Linked DNA regions of Homo sapiens: region 1 is linked to region 2. The links come from fine-mapping of genetic effects on gene expression. A gene starts in region 2. The other region holds a variant in brackets. All regions are shown on one strand. Distances are from middle to middle. Region 1 holds the start of VAMP1 (vesicle associated membrane protein 1). Region 2 holds the start of MRPL51 (mitochondrial ribosomal protein L51).

Region 1 (11,304 bases), 19 kb after region 2:
TCATATCTCGGTGGCACCAGGAAGGCGGCCCGCCTGCTTTCTTGGTGGTGCAGGGTGTGCCCAGCCTGGCTTCTCTGGCTGTACTGGTAATCGCTGTGCGTGTAGTGAGCCCTCTCCGGGCTGCTGTCAGGAGAAATCTCCAGTCTCCTCAGAGGATGCCTCAAATACCTTTCTTCCACGGACTTCTGGGAGCTGTACTGTGCTGTTCCTCTTCCCCAGCGACCTTCATAAGTGGCAGTTGTGCCAGCCTTTAGCATGTAATAGGTTTTAGGAACAGGGGAACGGCCTCCAACAAAATCATTTTCAACCAAGTGTAGGTTGTAGACATACTCAGGAACACTGCTGGTTCGGTGAAGATTTCCGTTGCCCACGGAGCTGCGGCCCTTCCGGGCGAGGATCTGCTGCACCTGCTCCTGGATCCGCAGGCTCTTGACTGGCTGCCGCGGCCGCTGCTCCCAGCCAGCTTCAGCTTGGCCTCAGAGGGCAGCGCCAGGCTGGAGCTGTCCAGTTGTCCCAGGATCTGCTGGCCCAAGATGGTCCGGATGTAGCCGTACTCAGCTGGGGCCCCGGGGGCTGCCATGGGGCCGGTGGGGGCGACCCAGCCGCTCGCTTGCCTTGGGACTCGCGGGTGAAGCCGCCGCAGAGCTGGGGGCTCTCCAGATAGGAATCTTAAAAAATACAGAAGGCCAGGCATGGTGGTTCACGCCTGTAATCCCAGCACTTTGGGAGGCCAAGGCAGTCGAATCACGAGGTCAAGAGATCCAGACTATCCTGGCCAACACGGTGAAACCCCGTCTCTACTAAAAATACAAAAAATTAGCTGGGCGTGGTGGCGCACGCCTGTAGTCCCAGCTACTTGGTCGGCTGAGGCAGGAGAATCGCTTGAACCTGGGAGGCAGAGGTTGCAGTGAGCCGAGATTGCATGACTGCACTCCAGCCTGGCGACAGAGCAAGACTCTGTCTCAAAAAAAAAAAAAAAAAAATCAGATGCGCATATTTGTAGGGGTCTATTTCTGCATTCTCTCATCGGTGCCATCGATCTATGTGTCTGTCCTCCCACCAATACCACACTGTCTTGATTACTGCAACTATATAGTAGTAAGCATGAGATAGTTATTCCTCCTATTTTATTCTTCTTTGTTCTTCTATAGATAAAATCTATTTATGAGTTGGCCTGAGAGTAAAGACTATTTAAACACGAAAAACTAAGTGAAAGCCAGTAACCAGGGAAGTTGCTGAGTCCCAAAGACTATTTTGCTCTGAGGGTATTTGCTATAAAGTTTAATATGAGCGTAGCAGCCTCACAGGCTACCACTGTGGCACAGGAAATAAAGCCCAGGGCTTACCCAAGGTTGGAAATCTAATAGAAAGTCCTTACCATAAAGTCAGAACCCCAAAGGACTATATCCTCATCTAAGAATGAATTACGAATATACTAGAACCCAAACTGCCCCAGAGCACTCCGTGGAATGTTGTTTGTCTGGAACCCAGGTGCCTGCTGGAGTTCTTTTATTTTTTTCTTTTAAGTATTTGCAGAGAATGTATAACCACAGGCTGTGGTGTTTCTGCCTGAACTCTTTGTTGATCCTAAAAAGAAAATGGCAAGAATTTAAAGTGGTTTTGGATTGACAGTACCACCAAGAACCCAGCAGAAGCAATGCAGATCCTTTCTGGATGAACTCATCTTTAATCTAGGCCTCGGGGAATTTCCACAGATACAGTTCCAAGAAAAATAAATTGTGGTCAAAAATTCCAAACAAATAAGGAACAAGGCACCAAGAACAAGAACCAGCAGAGATGGAGACAGGAAATAAGAAAGATAATTAGAAAATTAAGCCAAATAGTCCAATATCTAATTAATAGTCCGATGTCTAAAAAGAGAAAACAGGATATGTGAGGGAGAGGGAGAAAAAAGGGTGTGTGTGAGATTGATTTTAAAAGAAATACAAGACTCGCGCCTGTAATCCCGCACTTTGGGAGGCTGAGGCTGGCAGATCATCTGAGGTCAGGAGTTCGAGATCAGCCTGGCCAATATGGTGAAACCCCGTCTCTACTAAAAATACAAAAATTAGCCAGGCATGGTGGCAGGCGCCCGTAGTACCAGCTACTCAGAAGGCCTCGCGAGGTGCCGGGATTGCAGACCAAGTCTTGTTCACTCAGTGCTCAATGTTGCCCAGGCTGGAGTGCAGTGGCATGATCTCGGCTAGCTACAACCTCCACCTCCCAGCCGCCTGCCTTGGCCTCCCAAAGTGCCGAGATTGCAGCCTCTGCCCAGCCGCCACCCCGTCTGGGAAGTGAGGAGCGTCTCCGCCTGGCCGCCCATCGTCTGGGATGTGAGGAGCCCCTCTGCCCGGCTGCCCAGTCTGGGAAGTGAGGAGCACCTCTTCCCGGCCGCCATCCCGTCTAGGAAGTGAGGAGCGTCTCTGCCCGGCCGCCCATCGTCTGAGATTTGGGGAGCGCCTCTGCCTGGCCGTGACCCCGTCTAGGAGGTGAGGAGCGTCTCTGCCTGGCTGCCCCGTCTGAGAAGTGAGGAGCCCCTCCGCCCGGCAGCTGCCCCATCTGAGAAGTGAGGAGCCCCTCCGCCCGGCAGCCACCCTGTCTGAGAAGTGAGGAGCGTCTCCGCCTGGCCGCCCATCATCTGGGATGTGAGGAGCCCCTCTGCCCGGCTGCCCAGTCTGGGAAGTGAGGAGCACCTCTTCCCGGCCGCCATCCCGTCTAGGAAGTGAGGAGCGTCTCTGCCCGGCCGCCCATCGTCTGAGATGTGGGGAGCGCCTCTGCCCGCCCGTGACCCCGTCTAGGAGGTGAGGAGCGTCTCTGCCTGGCAGCCACCCCGTCCGGGAGGGAGGTGGGGGGTCAGCCCCCGCCCGGCCAGCCGCCCCGTCCGGGAGGGAGGTGGGGGTCGCCTCTGCCCGGCCACCCCTTCTGGGAAGTGAGGAGCCCCTCTACCCGGCCACCACCCCGTCTGGGAGGTGTACCCAACAACTCATTGAGAACGGGCCATTATGACGATGGCGGTTTTGTGGAATAGAAAAGGGGGAAAGGTGGGGAAAAGATAGAGAAATCAGATTGTTGCTGTGTCTGTGTAGAAAGAAGTAGACTTGGGAGACTTCATTTTGTTCTGTACTGGGAGGGGTTCTTCTGCCTTGGGATGCTGTTGAGCTGTGACCTTGCCCCCAGCCCTGTGCTCTCTGCGGCCTGTGCTGTGTCCACTCAGGGTTAAATGGATTAAGGGCGGTGCAAGATGTGCTTTGTTAAACAGATGCTTGAAGGCAGCATGCTCCTTAAGAGTCATCACCACTTCCTAATCTCAAGTACCCAGGGACACAAACACTGCGGAAGGCCGCAGGGTCCTCTGCCTAGGAAAACCAGAGACCTTTGTTCACTTGTTTATCTGCTGACCTTCCCTCCACTATTGTCCTATGACCCTGCCAAATTCCCCTCTGCGAGAAACACCCAAGAATGATCAATAAAAAAAAAAAGAAAATGGCCAAAAGACATGAACCAACATTTCATCAAATAGGATAATATATACAAGGCAAACACTTTAAAAGATATTTGATATCATTAGCCATCAGTGAAATAAGAATTAAAACCACAATGATAGCACTGAACACATATTAGAATGGTTAAAATAAGAAAAATACAGCTGGGCATGATGCCTATAGTCCTAGCTACTTGGGAAGCTGAAGTGGGAGAATTGCTTGAGCTCAGGAGTTTAAGACCAGCCTGGGCAACACAGGCAAAGGCAGTTTCTTATAAAACTAGAGATGCAATTACCTTACTGCCCAAGCATTGCACTCAGGCATTTATCCCAGAGAAATGAGAATTTATGTTCACACAAAACCTGTATGAAAGTTCACAGCAACTTTATTTGTAATAGCCCAGTGCTGAAATCACTCCAAATGTCCTTCAGCAGGTAAATGGTTAAATGTACCACGGAATATTAATCAGTGGTGAAAACTAATGATACACACAATAACTTGGATGGTTGAAAAAGTAATGATACACACAATAACTTGGATGAATGAAAAAAGCCAATCTTGAAAGGTTACGTGATATAGAAAAAAGCATGACTACATTTACATAAGGCTCTTGAAATAAAGTTACAGAGATGGAGAACAAATTAGTGTTGCTAAGGTTTAGGGATGGCGGTGGGTTGGAATATAAAGGGGTAGCACATGGGAGCCTTGCAGTAATGTGAAAATGCTGTATCCTAACTGTGGTTGTGGTTACACAAATCTACACATGATACAATTGCATAAAACCACTCAAACACACACGAACACAAAAAGAAGTGTTTGGTGGTACATGCCAGTTTGGAAAATCGGTGAAATTTGAATAAACTCTGGATTTTGCTAATGATAATTTCCTGGTTTTAATATTTTAATAATTTTAAACTGTATTTATACAAGATGTTACTGTTGGGGGAACTGGGTAAAGGGGTTTAGGGGAACCTCCCTGTATTGTATTTTTTTTTTTTGGCCACCTTATATGAATCTATAATTACTTTAAAATAAAAAGTTTAAGGCCGGGCGCGGTGGCTCACGCCTGTAATCCCAGCACTTTGGGAAGCCGAGGCGGGTGGATCATGAGGTCAGGAGATCGAGACCATCCTGGCTAACACTGTGAAACCCTGTCTCTACTAAAAATACAAAAAATTAGCCGGGCGTGGTGGCGGGTGCCTGTAGTCCCAGCTACTCAGGAGGCTGAGGCAGGAGAATGGCGTGAACCCAGGAGGTGGGGCTTGCAGTGAACCGAGATAGCGCCACTGCACTCCAGCGTGGGCGACAGAGGGAGACTCCGTCTCAAAAAAAAAAAAAAAAAGTTTAAAAAATGCCACCCCCTCAACCCCGTTTTTTTGAGACAGGGTCTCACTCTGTTGCCCAGGTTGGAGTGCAATGGTGTGATCATGGCTCACTGCTTTCTTGACCTCCTCAGGCTCAGGTAATCCTCCCACCTCAGCCTCCCAAGTAGTTGGAACTACAGGTGTGTGCCACAATACCCAGCTATATTTTTTTGTATCTATTTCTTGTAGAGACAGGATTTCACCATGTTGTCCAGGCTAGTCTTGAACTCCTGGGCTCAAGTGATCCTCCTGCTTTGGCCTCCCAAAATGCTGGGATTATAGGCGTGAGTCACCATTCAATGATTTTAAGTTTTTTTTCAGGGGAAAGTTGGTGGGAATAAATAGGCATTCATGCTGCCAGAAATATTTCCTCCCATTCTTTTTTCTTTTCTTTTTCTTTCTTTCTTTCTTTTTTTTTTTTTTTTTGAGACAGTCTCATTCTGTTGCCCAGGTTGGAGTGCAGTGGCAAGATCTCGGCTTACTGCAGCCTCCGCCTCCCGGGTTCAAGTGATCCTCCTGCCTCAGTCTCCCGAGTAGCTGGGACTACAGGCGTCCATGCCCAGCTAATTTTTGTATTTTTAGTAGAGACGGGATTTTGCTGCGTTAGCCAGGTTGGTCTTGAACTCCTGGCTTCAAGTGATCCGCCCTCCTTGGCCTCCCACATTGCTGGGATTACAGGTGTGAGTTACTGCGCCTGGCCCTTTTTCTTTTCTTTTGGAGATAGGGTCTCATTTTGTCACCCAGGTGGGAGTGCAGTGGCGTGATCTCGGCTCACTGCAACCGGAACATCTGGGCTCAAGCTGTCCTTCCGCCTCAGCCCCCCAAATAGCTGGGACTACGGGAGTGAGCCACCACGCCCGGCCCCATTCTTTTTGTCTTTGGGGGCTTATAATTTTTTGCAAATTTTCCCAAATTGTCATTTTTCCCCCTAACTTGCCATTTTGATGTGGTTTCAGGAGGAGAATGGGATAAACACATATGATGAATGCATTATGTTTCCAAGTGCAATTGTTTCCTTAAGAAGACTTGTGACATTTGGATAGATAACTTTGGTGGACTTTTTAGAGAATAGATGTAAAGGATGGCAAGACTGGAAGCAGAATGATGTATCATTGATCTTAGGAGGCACTTGGGTTTTTTGTGTGTGCTTGTTTGTTTGTTTTTTTGCATTTCAATATCTTCTAATTGGGATGTTTCACTTTAGCTATTAGTCAGACAGCAGTCAAACTATATTTGTCATACCTGCTCATGAGCATCAAAGCTTGCCAAATGGGTGTCTGAGGCTTGGAAGAAAACTCTAGAGCCTGGAGAGGAACACTCTTAGGAAATGCTGCATCACCAAAGCCCTTATGAAATGCACAGAGGACTACATTGCGTGGAAATTAGTGGACATCCAAGACTGAGTCAAAAAAGTGAATCATTAACAATCAGTCTCTGTGAAGTTTTAGGGATAGTTACCATGTTATTGTTTTCTATTTCCCTTTTTATGCATGCACAAGAGTGAAATATAGAAATCGGTATGTATATAAACCCATATTTTCAATACATGTAAAACAAAAATGCTAAGTGGTAAGGAAAGCATTTGTCACAGATAATTTGCAACCTTTTTTCTTTTTTTTTTTGAAACAGGGTCTTGCTCTGTTGCCCAGGCTGGAGTGCAGTGGCGTGATCTCGGCTCACTGCAACCGTCGGCTCCCGGCTTCAAGCGATTCTCTTATCTCAGCCTCACGAGTAGCTGGGATTACAGGCGCCCGCCACCATGCCTGGCTGTTTTGTATTTTTAGTAGAGACAGAGGTTTCGCCATGTTGGCCAGGCTGGTCTCGAACTCCTGATCTCAGGTAATCTGCCTGACTCGGCCTCCCAAAGTGCTGGGATTACAGGTGTGAGCCACTGCGCCCGGCCTTGTAACCTTTTTTCTTAGCGGGACATAAAATAATGGTGAATTTTCCAACTGATGGAGTCCAGGAAAGGGATAATAGTGAGCAGAGGGGAGATAATCACTGGAATGCCAAGAAGGAAAAATCAACTCGATTTGGCAGATTACTGGGGGAGAGGTAAAGGTGAAGGGGAGGAAATCTAGGATGGTTTCCACGTTTCTGGTCTGGGCAACTGAGTCGATGTGGTAACCTCGACTGGAGCAGGTTTGGGAGGGAGTTCAATTTAGGAAGGCTATGTTGAAAGAAACGAATGAACGAAAGCTTCGTGCTTGCTTTGGTGGGACGGAACCCCGCATCCGGTATCTGGCACCAGGAGCTTGTGGCTGTGTCTCGAGGCTCCTGCACCCTCTCAGAGCGTTAGT[T/C]AGAGGCGGGGCGGTGGTGCGGAGCGAGGGCCAGAGCAGGGCACCAGGGCTGGGCGCGCACCAGGAAGCCGCCGCCTCCAGCTGAATGCGCGAGTCCCGGCGCGGGGTGGGGCAGGGGCGGGCACGGTCTTCAGTAACTGCCTAGCGATTGGTTGGGAGGCACCACAAATGCCTAACAAACTGCTGAAGCGCCCTCCGAAGGGACAGACCTCATCTCCACCCCGCCCCGTCCCTCCGCCAGACTGGAGCGCAAACTATGGTCGCATTGATCACTGAAGGATCCTCACAGCAACCGCTCCTTTCCGGAGTCGGATGAGAGGAGAGTTGTGACTGGCAATTGGCAGGGGCGGGGCGGGCTAGGCCTGTAGCGCTGGGCGACCGTCCTGGGCATGGATTGGGCCGCGGGGTTGTCACCGTTATCCGGGAGGCGTGGTCAGCACTAATAAAGGCGGAGGCCGGCGCGGCAGCTGCAGTAAGTTCCAGCGCAGCTAGACCGCGGGGTAGTCGGCGCGAGGCGGAGCTTGGCAGTTCCGTCCACTTCAGCCGCAGCGTCCCTCACCGGGTGTCTCGCCGCAGCCTCCGGAGAGGAACAGACCCTCACTCTCTCTGTCAGAAAAATGTGAGTTGACTCTGGTGTGGGGGCTCGGCACCTCCTTGACAACTCTCGCCCCAAGCTCCCGATTCTGCGGGACGGAAAATGGCGCAATGCAGCAGCTGCAGCAACGCGGGGAACTACCACCGCGCGCCGCTTCCGGACCGGGCCACCCCCAGGGAGGGGGGCCAGCACCCCATTCTCGCACCAGCCACAGCTAGCACCCCACGGGCGGGGCAGGGGCGCAGGGGTCCCACAATCATTGCACCCTCTCCTCTCGTCTGAGTGGCGCCTCATTCTGGTTTTGGTATAGTGGAGACTCGGAGAGGGCGGGGGCTGGGGGTGGTGGATGGAGACAACTGGGCAGGGGACTCGAAAGGTATTTCTGTCATCTGGCTAAATCACTACTCAGCGCCTCAGGAAAGACAGTCATGGGTGCAACTGCCAGTTGGTAACTTATGTTGCCCTACAATCTCTGGATTTGTTTACCCCTCACCCAAAGTGTGATGTCTAGCCCCCCTCATGGCAGTGAGCAAAGCTGCAGAAACTTATCTGCCAGTTCTCTGGCACCAGGTGAGCAGCTCAGAAAGACTCAAGGGGTAGTGGGATAGTGGCCTGTCATCCCAAGCGGCTGTTCATACCAAGGCCATTCGTATAGGAGATGTTTTTCTATCACCGAGTCTTACCAAATAGTTGGAGGAGAAATAGGGAGAGCTGAGCTTTCCCCCTTTCCTCCAACACACACAGTTTAGTCTCCAGCAGTCTTCAACATCACCCCCTTCGCATGATCTTGAGGGAAAACTACGGCTAAACAAACGAAGTACTTCTCTGTCAAGACCTCAATATGTCTAATACAGATTTTTCTTTCTGATTACTACCCTGGCCTGGTCCTAGATGTATTTATGTTGCTTCTCTAAGTGACAAAAAAGGGAAAGATTTACTTGTGTTACATAAGGGTTGTAATTATCCCTAGATATTTTACTGTTGAGTGTTTCCAACTCCCAACAAGTAGTAAGTGAAATTGGCCTTGCAAATACTTCATAGCCATTTCACTTTTTCTTTTTGATTTCTATGGTTTTAACCAGATATGAGTGTTCTATGCATTTTGGGCAAGCCGTAGAATTCCAGTTGTTTTCATTTTGGGGAGGGGGCTTCCAGATAGTATCTACGTGGGATGAACAGAAGGCAACAGAAAAATCGTGGTGGCTAGCGGGGCATCACGAGGTCTCTGACCTTAATCTTGTCATTGGTGCTACCATCCTGGACTGCTTCCAACACTGGCTGCTACCTACTCATTGAATTTTCTGCCTTAAGTCGAGAGCTAGATTGCTTAGCTAGCTCAGTGGCAGGACAAGAGTCTTGTGGCTCCCATGACTTTGTGTCTATCTTTGCTTTACCTCCTTTGCACCTTAGAGGGAAATGGAAAAGTGATTCTTCAAATGGGGAATGAGTCAGGTGTAATCTGCTACCATAGCCTCTCTGAGGAGTTATTCTCTATCTTTTTAGACTAAAAGAAATTCACTTAATCAAGGAGAATGAGCTTCTGGGTATTAGTTCTATTGTAATTAGTCAAATAATTTCCTTTTAGGTGACTTTGTGGTTTCATTTTTGTTGCATTTACTCTTGGACTGCTCCTGTGAAGTATGTTTGGTGAGATTCTGCTTCTGTTTGAGGAGTTCTTACTGTAATTTCTATTCTCCATCAAATTTGAGAGATCTCCCCCCTGCCTGTGGGTGCTTCCTTGGCCGAGAACATCTCATGACTTAGGTTATACTTCTGGGAATTCTTTAGGAGGTGAGTTTAGCCTCCATGTTTTGGGACATGGAGAGGAGTTTGTCTTGAAGACCACACACTAACTTTGAGTGGTACAGAATGAGAGAACATTCTCTGTGTGTATAGTACAGTAAACCAAGATCTCTCTTTGGGATGTAAGTAACCAAGGGAGTCATCTGAGACTGTCAAATCCAGAAAAGGAAGGGACAGAATGTCTATAATGCATGCACATTGAGGACAATTTCTAGCATTTTTGCTTCCTGTCTATGCTCTTGGAACAGTTTCCATAACTAATGTAATTGCTTTGGGCCCCAGATTCTATCTAAGTGAAACCCCCATTTTCTCTGCCAAAAACAAAGCAAACAAACAGTCCTGACTCACTCCACCTACATAGACTTTGCCTTTGGTGATTTTCCAAGCTGCCCTTATGGCAGCCCTGATTTCCTCATCTTGTGTGAAGCATAACCAATAACTGGGCATATAAACCAATAACCATAACCAATAACTTGAATATAAAAAGGGGTGAGCTGACAGACATTACAGTGTACAGCCTCCCTCCTGGCTCCCTTCACGGACTGGCATTGAGTGTCTGTGGCTTTTCCAGGCGCACGGTGCAAGCTACCAGTGGATCTACCATTCTGGGGTCTGGAGAATGGTGACCTTTTTCTCATAGCTCCACTAGGCAGTGTTCCAGTGGGGACTCTGTGTGGGGGCTCCAACCCCACATGTCCCTTCTGTACTACACTAGCAGAGGTTCTCCATGAGGGCCCTGCCCTTGCAGCAAACTTTTGCCTGGACATCCAGGCGTTTCCATACATCTTCTGAAGTCTAGACGGAGGTTCCCGAACCTCAGTTCTTGCCTTCTGTGCATCTGCAGGCTCAACACCATGTGGAAGCTGCCAAGGCTTGGGGCTTCCACCCTCTGAAGCCACGGCCCGAGCCCTGCATTGGCCCCTCTCAGCCACAGTGGGAGCGGCTGGGACACAGGGCACTAAGTCCCTAGGCTGCACACAGCATGGGGACCCTGGGCCTGGCCCACAAAATAACTTTTTCCTCCTGGGCCTCCAGGCCTGTGATGGGAGGGGCTGCTATGAAGGCTTCTGACATGGCCTGGAGACATTTTCCCCATGGTCTTAGGGGCTAACACTAGGTTCCTTGCTACTTATGCAAATTTCTGCAGCTGCCTTGAATTTCTTCTCAAAAAAATGGTTTTTTTCTTTAGTACTGCGTCTTTTCTTCTGCCAGATACCCTAAATTATCTCTCTCAAGTTCAAAGTTCCACAAATTTCTAGGGCAGGGGCAAAATGCTGCCAGTCTTTTTGCCAAAACATAACAAGAGTCACCTTTGCTTCAGTTCCCAACAAGTTCCTCATCTCCATCTGAGACCACCTCAGCCTGGACCTTATTGTTCATATCACTAACAGCATTTTTGTCAAAGCCATTCAACAAGTCTCTAGGAGGTTCCAAACTTTCCCGCATTTTCCTGTCTTCTTCTGAGCCCTCCAAACTGTTCCATCCTCTCCCTGTTAACCCAGTTCCAAAGTCGCTTCCACATTTTTGGGTATCTTTTCAGCAACACCCCACTCTACTGGTACCAATTTACTGTATTAGTCTGTTTTCATGCTGCTGATAAAGACATACCCAAGACTGGGAAGAAAAAGAGGTTTAATTGGACTTACAGTTCCACATGGCTGGGAAGGCCTCAGAATCATGGCGGCAGGTGAAAGGCACTTCTTACATGGCAGCAGCAAGAGAAAATGTGGAAGAAGCAAAAGCAGAAACCACTGATAAAC
Region 2 (10,992 bases):
TTCTTCCTTGCTTACCAAATGGTTGATATGCTCAAGTTTAGGGAGGCTCCTAGGTAATAAGCTTGATCAGTTAAACCAGTCTGGGTAATTCTATTTCTCTTACCTGTACAGTCCTGTGCCCTGTAACATTTTGGTAAACAATAGACCACATATGCGACAGTGGTGTCATAAAAATATAATACAGCTGAAAAATTCCCATCGTCTAGTGACTTCTTGGTGACCTTGACCCTGTGTAGGCCTAGGCTAATGTGTGTAGGTGTTTTAGTTTTTAACAAAAAAGTCTGGCCGAGCATGGTGCCTCATGCCTACAATCCCAGCACTTTGGTACATGTCTGTGGTCCCAGCTACTTGGGAGGCTGAGGTGGGAGGACTGCTTGAGCCTGGTAGATTGAGGCTGCAGTGAGCTGTGATCAGGCCACTGCATTCCAGCCTGCAATCCCAGCACTTTGGGAGGCTGAGGCGGGAAGACTGCTTGAGCCCAGAAGTTCGAGACCAGCCTGGGCAACATAGGGAGACACTGTTTCTACAGAAAATTTAAAAATTAGCCAGGTATGGTGGTGCATGTCTGTGATCCCAGCTGCTTGGGAGGCTGAGGTGAGAGGATTGCTTGAGTCTGGGAAGTTGAGGCTGCAGTGAGCCGTGATCATGCCACTGGACTCCAGCCTGGGCAAGAGAGTCTTTACCTTGTCTTTCAAAATAAAATAAAGAATAAAAAGTACAAAAAGAAAATTCCTTTTTCCACTTCTGGACATTAGAGGAAGAAGCTGCCATCTAGACTGGTGCAGTGGCTCACGCCTATAATCCTAACACTTTGGGAGGCCAAGGTGGGTGGATCATGTGAGGTCAGGAGTTCAAGACCAGCCTGGCCAACATGGTGAAATCCCGTCTCTACTAAAAATACAAAAATTAGCCAGGTGGTAGTGGCGTGCACCTGTAATCCTAGCTACTTGGGAGGCTGAAGCAGGAGAATCGCTTGAGCCTGGGGAGGCAGAGGTTGTGGTGAGCCGATATCGCATCACTGCACTCCAGTCTGGGCAACAGAGTGAGACCCTGTCTCAAAAAAAAAAAAAAAAGAAAAACAAAAAGAAGTTGCAATCTAGCAACCATGAAAGAAAAGCCAAGAGGAGACAAGCTAGGACCATATTGTCGAGCTGCTGCATTAACCAACCCTTCTTCTTGTAGGTGATAACAAAGGAATTGGTTATTATCTCTATATTTACAGATGACGAAACCAAGGCACTGAGACAATTAAGTAACTTGTCTAAGGTCAGAGTGGTAGAACCAGGATTCAAATCCAGGCAGCCTGGCTCCAGTCTTTAATCTCTATACCTCTCCAAAGCAAGCTAACTGCTACAAGACCGCTCCCAACAAGTACAAGGACATTATGAAGTCTTTCTGGTAATGCAAAAGGTGCTTTTGATCATTTACAGGTTTCAGTAGGTGACTGCACTGTACATATATTGCTCAGTGTTGCAGTGGTACATATATATTATGGGTTTTTGTCCCCATAATTGCACATCCAAAAAGACTCCAAAAAGGTATTACCAAAAACAGGTCGAGTTAAGTCCGAGACATTCTGAAAAAGCGATCCACTCCTATAACTCTTAAATCCACCAGGACTTAATTTTGACACACAGTAAGGGGTAAAGATGGAAAATAACTTTTCCCCAAAGAGTAATCACATACACCAAGACTGTTTTTGACTAATCCAGAAAAGGAAGTTAATGAATGTACTCTTTGGGTCATGCATCCCATGCAATTTTAGGATAAAACAGCAAAATAGGAAAAACATGTTTCTTGCTCTTATGATGCTTCCTGGTGTAGTGGAACAGAAATGACAATGTAGCAATTCCATGTGAGATGGTCCTTTGAAAGAGCTAGGTACAGTGACAGCTATGGACTCTTACCTCTAAGCTGTGGTGGAAGATGTTTGATGGACAGTACCTCTTGCACAACATACTGATTCACCCCTCCACTTTTCAACAACTCCTCTGGGGATAATGGCAGATGGAACTCATACATTTGGGGAGCCATTCTACTCCTACAGGCTCACAGGGCTAGAAACCAAACAGTGAAAAAGTCAGGGTCTATATTCAAGACCTGTCTTCGTATCTGGTTCTATTACTTTCCCATCCCCAACATATATAATGGCTTTTAGTTTTATAGCAAGCTAGTAACATCATCTGGTTTTGTTAGTTCCCCACCCCCAACATATATAATGGTTTTTAGTTTTATAGCAAGCTAGTAACATTATCTTACGGGATCTGAGATTGACCCTGGACTAGAAACTAATTCTAGTAGTGACTTTGGCACTTGGTCTTGACACTTAAACCTCTGGGCTTTATCTGTAAAAACAGGGTTACTAAACTCTGATTACTTCACAAAGTTGCTCTGATGATCAAACAAATCAAGCAGTACGAAGGTGTTTAAAGAACTATAAAGTGGCATATTAATGTGCAAAGTACTATTATTTCCATTTTTATGTGCAAAGCTCCTTAAGTATAGAGAGAATGGTCTGATCTCGTCTGAGGCCAAAACAGTGCCCCAGCATGGGCTAGTGGGCTTCCTGCACCAGAATGGTAAGAGCATTAACAATGATGATTTATTTATCCTGTGCCAAGTCTGTTAGGCTGTTTGCATGTATCATATCTGATCTAAGTATCCTAACCTCAATCCCATGAGGTGCATAATAATACAAATGAGTTTACAGAGCGGAAATTGAAGTAAGAAAGTTAAGCGATTTGCTTAACATCTTCCGTTGCGGATCTGTTAAGCGATTTGCTTAACATCTTCCGTTGCGGATCTGTTAAGCGATTTGCTTAACAACTTCCGTTGCGGATCTGTCAGACTTACAGTTTCTCACACATCGCGCCCCAGGGATATACTTACTAGGCCTATTGTATTTTGCCCAAGACTGGGTCACACTGCCATGTACTCGACTTTCCTACTCTTTTACGACCTGCAACACCACATCTTACCTGGGGATCTCACCCGCGGCTCTGATTCCGGCAGTCAGGCTGAAATGAAAAGGAAAAAACACGCGTGCACAACACGCACCAATTAGCAAGGCAGTTTTCAAGTCGGCGGAGAATCCGGCCAATCCCCGGCAGGCAGAGGCAAAGGGCCGCCTCTGAGTCTGGCAACGCGCGGGCAAAGCCACAAATACCGAGTTCAAATCTCAACGGCTGCAGGACGGCCAATCGCGACGCCCGCCGGAGCGGCCGGCCAATCACAGCGCCGCCCGGGGGCGGGCCAAGGCTCCGGCTCCGGCCCCCGCTCCCACCCCCGGCCCGCCTGCGAATCCCTCCTTGGCCGCAAGGTCCCCCTTTGCCCAGTCGGCGGGGAGGAGGCCGTATTTCTGCTGGCCAGAGACGTCGCGTCCCTGGCTGGGCATTCAGTCACCCCCAGGAAAGGAGGCAAGTCCACGCTGGGAGTTAGAAGGCATCGCCTCTAATCCAGGTTTCGCCATCTCCTCTGCTAAGTGACGTCCAGCAAGTCACTTCACTTTCAGGACCTCAAATCTCCTCCCCAGTAGTAAAATAGGGGTAATAAAAACAGCTACAGCGGAAGACTGTTGTGAGGCACAGAGAAAGGGCTTGGTCATTGGAAGCGGGTTCCAGGTTCTCAACCTTCATTTCCTTCACGGTTGAAGGACGCCAAAGAAAGCGGAAAGGGTGAATTTTCTTGAAATCTCAGTTTTGGGGAATCTTAGCGACGAGTCGCGGACCTCAGCTTGTCCGGCGCTCCAAAACTTCCGGCAGGCGGACCGGAAGCACTGAGGCGGGAAGGGTGGTAGAGGCCCCTCCTGCCGGAACCCGGGGGGCGGGGCTCGTGGCTGTTGCGGATGGGGCGTAGGTGGGCGGTGCGCCCACAGCTGCCTGGGTAAGGCCCAAGATGGCTGTCTTCGCCTTAGTACTCGTGTGAAGTTGGCGGGGACGGTTCCTGTCATCTTCTTGGGCTTATTTGGTGTGCTGTTGAAGGGGGGAGACTAGAGAAATGGCAGGGAACCTCTTATCCGGGGCAGGTAGGCGCCTGTGGGACTGGGTGCCTCTGGCGTGCAGAAGCTTCTCTCTTGGTAAGTGGCTGATGTAGGCACCCCGATAACTGCTTCGTAGTATAATAGGCGGCTCAGATTAATTCCCTCCCTTCCCCATCCCCAGGTGTGCCTAGATTGATCGGTATAAGGCTCACTCTCCCGCCCCCCAAAGTGGTTGATCGTTGGAACGAGAAAAGGGCCATGTTCGGAGTGTATGACAACATCGGGATCCTGGGTAAGACTTGACCTTCGACGTGGTACACAATTTCAGAATGGCAATTAGGCTGTAACGACTATCTTTTCCTCCTGTGTAGAGAGTGGTACTGTGCTCAATAGTAAGAGCAAACACTTATGTAGCTGTTTACATTGTGTTTGGCACTGTTCTGAGTCCCCTCGTATAATTTTTACTTCATAAGTAAAAATAAACAGTTTTTCCAAAGTTAATAAATGGCAGCATCAGAATTTTAACCCCAAGCAGTCTGGCTCCAGAGTCTGTGCTATTGTTCTGTACTGTAATGTTCCTTGTCTATAGGTGCTGCTCAGCAAGATGCAACCGTGGGTTGAAAGCTTAGCTGGTGTAGGATGAGTTCTCTTGTCTTGGATCTAATGTGTTCTCTCACATTACACAGGAAACTTTGAAAAGCACCCCAAAGAACTGATCAGGGGGCCCATATGGCTTCGAGGTTGGAAAGGGAATGAATTGCAACGTTGTATCCGAAAGAGGAAAATGGTTGGAAGTAGAATGTTCGCTGATGACCTGCACAACCTTAATAAACGCATCCGCTATCTCTACAAACACTTTAACCGACATGGGAAGTTTCGATAGAAGAGAAAGCTGAGAACTTCGGAAAAGGCTCATCTGTCACCCTGGAGAAGGGAAACTGTACTTTTCCCTGTGAGGAAACGGCTTTGTATTTTCTCTGTAATAAAATGGGGCTTCTTTGGAATTTGATAGCCACATACTTTTGTTTTCCTCTAGATGCTGCCTCTACTCATGTAGACTATGAAGTCTTGACTCATCCTAGATCTTAGGATCTTAGGTTTGGGCTTCACACCACTTGCCTTTTACAGTCTAGCTATACCTAATTCCTTTAAAAAGAAAAGTTGGTGAGAATGTTATTGGCGCTTTTTGACATAATGCTGTTATGTTAATAGTGTTTCTAAAGAGCCTTCCACACTGAAATGAAATATAAGAGAAAAATGGAGTCATACTTCTGTACTACTCTCATAAAATATTTATTAGGCATATTCTCTGAGTAGGAACTATAGGAAAAACAAAAAAGTGTGAGGTGTCCTTTCCATTTAAATATGAAACATTAAGTACCATATGAATGGTAGAGATGGCGGATACTAAGCCTGACTGGTCATCAGTTTTCTGGGTGTTTTAACATTTCAAAAGCCTAGTCCTAACCCCTAAAGATTGATCAGTAGAGCTGAGTTGAGTCTAGGGCATCTATGTGTTTTGTTCTTTTTTAATAATAATTTTTAAGAATTACAGCTGGGCAGAATGGTGCCCACATGTAATCCCAGCATTTTGGGAGGCTGAGGTGGGAGGATTGCTTGGAGACAGGAATTTGAGACTGGTCTGGGCGACATGGTGAAACTCCGTCTCTACTAAAAATAAAGTGGCTGGGTGCGGTGGCTCCTGCCTGTAATCCCAGCACCTTGGGAGGCGGAGGGGGGCGGACCACGAGCTCAGGAGATCGAGACTATCCTGGCTAACACAGCCCTGTCTCTACTGAAAATACAAAAACAAACAAACAAAAAAATTAGCCAGGAGTGGTGGCGGACACCTGTAGTCCCAGCTACTCAGGTGTCTGAGGCAGGAGAATCACTTGAACCTGGGAGGTGGAGCTTGCAGTGAGCCGAGATCGTGCCACTGCACTCCAGCCTGAGCAACAGAGCAAGACTCTGTCTCAAAAAAAAAAAAAAAACAACTTAGCTGGGCATGGTTCTGCATGCCTGTAGTTCCAGCTACTCATGGTTCTGCGTGCCTGCAGTCCCAGCTACACAAGAGGCTGAGGTGGGAAGATCACCTGAGCCCAGGAGTTTGAGGCTGCAGTGAGCTGAGATCATGCCACTGCATTCCAGCCTGAGCAACTGGGGTGAGACTGTCTCAAAAAAAAAAAAAAAAAAAAAGTGAAGTTAGGGCTGGGTGCAGTGGCTCACACCTGTAAGCCCAACACTTTGGGAGGCCAAGGCATGAGGATTGCTTGAAGCCAGGAGTTCAAGACCAGCCTGGGCAACATAGCAAGACCCCATCTCTATATTTTAAAAAACAAAAACTCCATAAAAGTGAAGTTAGATTAATAAATACTTGTTGCGGGGCATGGTGGTTGGAGCACACTTATAATCCCAGCTACTCTGCAGGCTGAGGTGGGAGGATCCTTTGAAACCAGGAGTTGGAGGCCAGCCTTAGGAACATAGCAAGACCCCATCTTCAATAAAAATAAAAAGCACTTGTTAAATTACAAGTGGGTTTTGGATAAATGGATTGATGGGTATATATGAAAACATGATCCTGGGTCTTACGGAAATGTTTAGGAGAGTCAGTTTTCAGAGGGGTGGCTGGAAGGAGCTATGCATAAGAATGGAGAAGTTGATGTGAAATGTGAGTGGCTGTATACTTTACATGATTTGGTGGTGCTAGAGTGGAGAAAATAAAATATTTGGGACTCTGCTAAGTGCAAGGTGCCCTGAAGAAGATATCTACATATCCTGGTAGAGTATCTGATTGTTAGGGAAGAGGAAATTAATAGGTCAATAGGCATTTATAGAATATTTCCTGATTCAAAGATACAAAAGGTTTTGTTTTCAAGGACAGAACAATCTTGTTTGTGGTATGAAACAGTATATAACGTTTTCTTTGAATAAATATTGAATTATTATGTGCAAAGATATTTGGAGGAACAAAAATCACCAAGGTAGGGTTGGTTCCTACCTCTAAGTAGTCTTCATTCTACTTAAAAGATGTCCGGTGGCTCACACCTGTAATCCCAGCACTTTGGAAGGCCTAGGTGGGCGGATCACGAGGTCAGGAGATCAAGACCATCCTGGCCAACATGGTGAAACCTCGTCTGTACTAAAAATACAAAAAAATTAGCCAGGTATAGTGGTGTGTGCCTGTAATCCCAGCTACTCGGGAGGCTGAGGCAGGAGAATCGCTTGAATCCGGGAGACAGAGAGGTTGCAGTGAGCTGAGATTGCACCATGCACTTCAGCCTGGGCAACAGAGGGAGACTCTGTCTTTAAAAAAAGAAAAAAAAAAAAAAAAAGACGTCTGAAGGATGTAAAGTTACAAGATGGTGGACCAATGTGATACTCTGCAGAATGTGCAAATGGTCCACATTTTTTAGATTACATCATGACAGAGAACAGAATTAACATAGCCCTGATGAAAGACCATGACTGTATACTGTTGTTCATCCCCTCCGTGGTGGACTGCTTCTGACCAACATGCTTTAGAAAAGAATGTTGGTTGGGCATGCTGGCTCAGGCCTGTAATCCCAGCACTTTGGGGGGCCAAGGTGGGCGGATCACCTGAGGTCAGGAGTTCGAGACCAGCCTGACCAACATGGAGAAACCCTGACTACTAAAAATACAAAATTAGCTGGGCCTGGTGGCACATGCCTGTAATCCCACCTACTCAGGAGGCTGAGGCAGGAGAATCGCTTGAACTCGGGAGGTGGAGGTTGCAGTGAGCCAAGATCGTGCCATTGTACTCCAGCCTGGGCACCAAGAGCGAAACTCTGTCTCAAAGGAAAAAAACAAAAAAGAAAAGGATGTTCGCCAGGTGCAGTGGCTCACACCTGTAATCCCAACACTTTGGGAGGTTGAGGCGAGAGGATCAGCTGAGCCCAGGAATTCGAGATCAGCCTGGGCAACATGGTGAAATGCTGTCTCCACAAAAAAAAAAAAAAAAAATTAGCCAGGCGTTGGTGGCATGTGCCTGTAGTCCCAGCTGCTGTGGAGGCTGGGTGGAAGGATTGCTTGAGCCTTGGGGGTCGAGGCTGCAGTGAGCTGAGCTTGTGACACTGCACTTCAGCCTAGGCAACAAAGCAAGACCCTGTCTCAAAAGAAAAAGAAAAAGAAAAAAGAAAAACAATGTATTTGCTAAATCAGTGGTCACAAACCACAAATGTGAGGCTATGTTAATCTGCTCCAATAAAGATATCCCATCCAGCAGACAATTAGCACTGGGATTCCCACTTGGTTAAATTGGCAGCAGCTTCATCCAGTTTATACAGGGGTAAGACTGGAAAAAAGAAAAAAAGAAGAGATGTGTATGTAAACAAAATGTAAATTTAAATATGATAATGAAAGCGAGTCCCATGACAGGTTTTTTTTTTCTTTTTTTTTTTTGCTGAGGGGGATGATCAGAAAAGGTATTTGTTGAAAAGATGGCATTAGAATGAGCTCTTGAGGCCAGGAGCAGTGGCTCATGCTTGTAATCCCAGCACTTTGGGAGGCCGAGGTGAGCAGATCACTTGAGGTCAGGAGTTCAAGACCAGCTTGGCCAAAGTGGTGAAACCCCATCTCTACTAAAAAAATACAAAAAACAAATTAGCTGGGCATGATGGCACATGCCTGTAATTCCAGCTACTCAGGAGGCTGAGGGGGGAGGATGGCTTGAGCCCAGCAGGTGGAGGTGGCAGTGAGCTGAGATCAGGCCACTACATTCTAGCCTGGGCAACATAGCAAGATCCTGCCTTTAAAAAAAAAAAAAAGGAAAAAAGAATTCCACCCAGTGCAAGAGGCAGATGAAGAAGCATAGTTATGAAATCCAGTATGTCATGACATTTAAAGTTTGTTAATAGCTATGTGTATAGGTGTGGAGAGGAAGAGACACCTATCTTTTCCTGAGGAAGCAGGAATGGGGACGAGAAGGGCTTTAGAGAAGAGGTGACCACTGAGTTGTCTTAAGGGAGTGGAGGCTAGCAGTTTTTCCAGGCAGTTGAAGCAGAAATAAAGGCCTAGAGTCAAGAAACAGCATGGTGTGCATGAGAAAGCTATGAGTGGTATTTACTGGTGGAGCTACTGCTTGTGGTAAAAGACAGGGAAAGAGATGGGAAGCAAGAGTCAGATCCTGAAGATTGTAATGATTATTAAAATTTAGCCTTTAGGGGGCCGGGCGCGGTGGCTCACGCCTGTAATCCCAGCACTTTGGGAGGCTGAGACAGGCAGATCACGAGGTCAGGAGATCGAGACCATCCTGGCTAACACGGTGAAACCCCATCTGTACTAAAAATACAAAAAATTAGCCTGGCATGGTGGCGGGCACCTGTAGTCCCAGCTACTTGGGAGGCTGAGGCGCGAGAATGGCGTGAACCCAGGAGGCGGAGTTTGCAGTGAGCTGAGATCGCACCACCGCACTCCAGCCTGGGCGACAGAGTGAGACTCCATCTCAAAAAAAAAAATTTAGCCTTTAGTAAAATGGTGCAGCCACTTTGGAAAAGTGGCAGTTCCACAAAAAGTTAAGTGTAGAGTTACTGCATGACCCAGTAATTCCACTCCTAGGTTTATACCCAAGAAAACTGAAAACATATGTCCACACAAACACTTGTACATAAATCTCCTTAGCAACATTATTCATAATAGCTAAAAAGAAGAAACAATCCAAATATCCGTCAGCTGGTGAATGGATACACAAAATGTGGTCTATCCATACAATAGAATATGGAATATTATTATTATTATTATTTGAGACAGAGTCTCGCTCTGTCGCCCAGGCTGGAGTGCAGTGGCCCGATCTCGGCTCACTGCGAGCTCCGCCTCCCAGGTTCACACCATTCTCCTGCCTTAGCCTCCTGAATAGCTGGGACTACAGGCACCTGCCACCACGCCCGGCTAATTTTTTGCATTTTTGGTACAGACGGGGTTTCACCGTGTTAGCCAGGGTGGTCTCGATCTCCTGACCTCGTGATCCACCTACCTTGCCCTCCCAAAGTGCTGGGATTACAGGCGTGAACCACCACACCCAACCAGAATATGGAATATTATTTTTTTAACTTTCTTTTTAACACTCCTTCCTGCACACTGACAATGGAATATTATTAAGCTGTAAAATGAGGTACTGGCCAGCGTAGTGGCTCACACCTGTAATCCCAACACTTTTGGAGGCCAAGCGGGAGGGGAGGATCACTTGAGGCCAGGAGTTTGAGACCAGCCTGGGCAACATAGTGAGACCCTGCCTCTAAAAAATAAAAAGAAAAAAATAGCTGGGTAGGTTGGTGAGTACCTGTAGTTCTGGTGAGTGCCTGTCGTCTTAGCTACTTGAGAGGCTGAGGTGGGAGGATGGCTTGGGCCCAGGAGTTCAAGGCTGCAGTGAACTATGATCACATCAGTGCACTCCAGCCTGGGAAACAGAGCAAGAGCCTATCTCTCTCTCTAAAAAAAAAAAAAAAAAAAATAGGGCCAGCCACGGTGGCTCACGCATGTAATCCCTGCCAGCAACAAGAACAAAACTCTGTCTCAAAAAAAAAAAAAAAAAACAACGGGTGGTGGCTCACACCTGTAATCACAGCACTTTGGGAGGCAGAGGTGAGCGGATCACTTGAGGTCAGGAGATCGAGATCAGCCTGGCCAACATGGTGAAAGCCCATCTCTCCTAAAAATACAAAAATTAGCTGGGCATGGTGGCGGGCACCTGTAATCCCCAGTTACTTGGGAGGCTGAGGCAGGAGAATCGCTTGAACCCAGGAAGCGGAGGTTGCAGTGAGCCGAGATTGCGCCATTGCACTCCAGCCTGGGTGACAAGAGTGAGACTCCATCTCAAAAACAACAAAACAACAACAACAACAAACCCAAAAATTAGCCGGGCGTGGTGGCAGGCGCCTGTAATCCCAGCTACTCAGGAGGCTGAGGCAGGAGAATCGCTTGAAGCCGGGAGGCAGAGGTTGCAGTGAGCTGAGATCGCGCCACTGCACTCCAGCCTGGGCAACAGAGTGAGACTGTCT

What was found. PIP is the estimated chance that this variant, and not a neighbour inherited with it, causes the effect.
Region 1: its variant is fine-mapped to the expression of MRPL51 in regulatory T cells (Bossini-Castillo 2019, PIP 0.91).

The regions. Positions count from the first base shown.
Region 1 is chr12:6,466,991-6,478,294 of GRCh38, reverse strand. VAMP1 (vesicle associated membrane protein 1) reads left to right here and starts at 7,618. Exons shown (of 5, transcript NM_014231.5): 1 at 7,618-7,765. The coding sequence starts at 7,764. It also overlaps a transcript of TAPBPL not described here and the pseudogene PKP2P1. RefSeq lists silencers at 7,067-7,326, 7,537-7,586, 8,087-8,136. The variant T/C (reference allele first, on the strand shown) is at 7,147.
Region 2 is chr12:6,486,141-6,497,132 of GRCh38, reverse strand. MRPL51 (mitochondrial ribosomal protein L51) reads left to right here and starts at 3,871. Exons shown (of 3, transcript NM_016497.4): 1 at 3,871-4,075; 2 at 4,161-4,271; 3 at 4,666-5,247. The coding sequence starts at 3,997. The coding sequence ends at 4,862. NCAPD2 (non-SMC condensin I complex subunit D2) reads right to left here and starts at 3,031. Exons shown (of 32, transcript NM_014865.4): 1 at 2,979-3,031; 2 at 1,908-2,057. The coding sequence starts at 2,034. RefSeq lists a silencer at 3,074-3,403 and enhancers at 2,839-3,436, 3,604-3,653.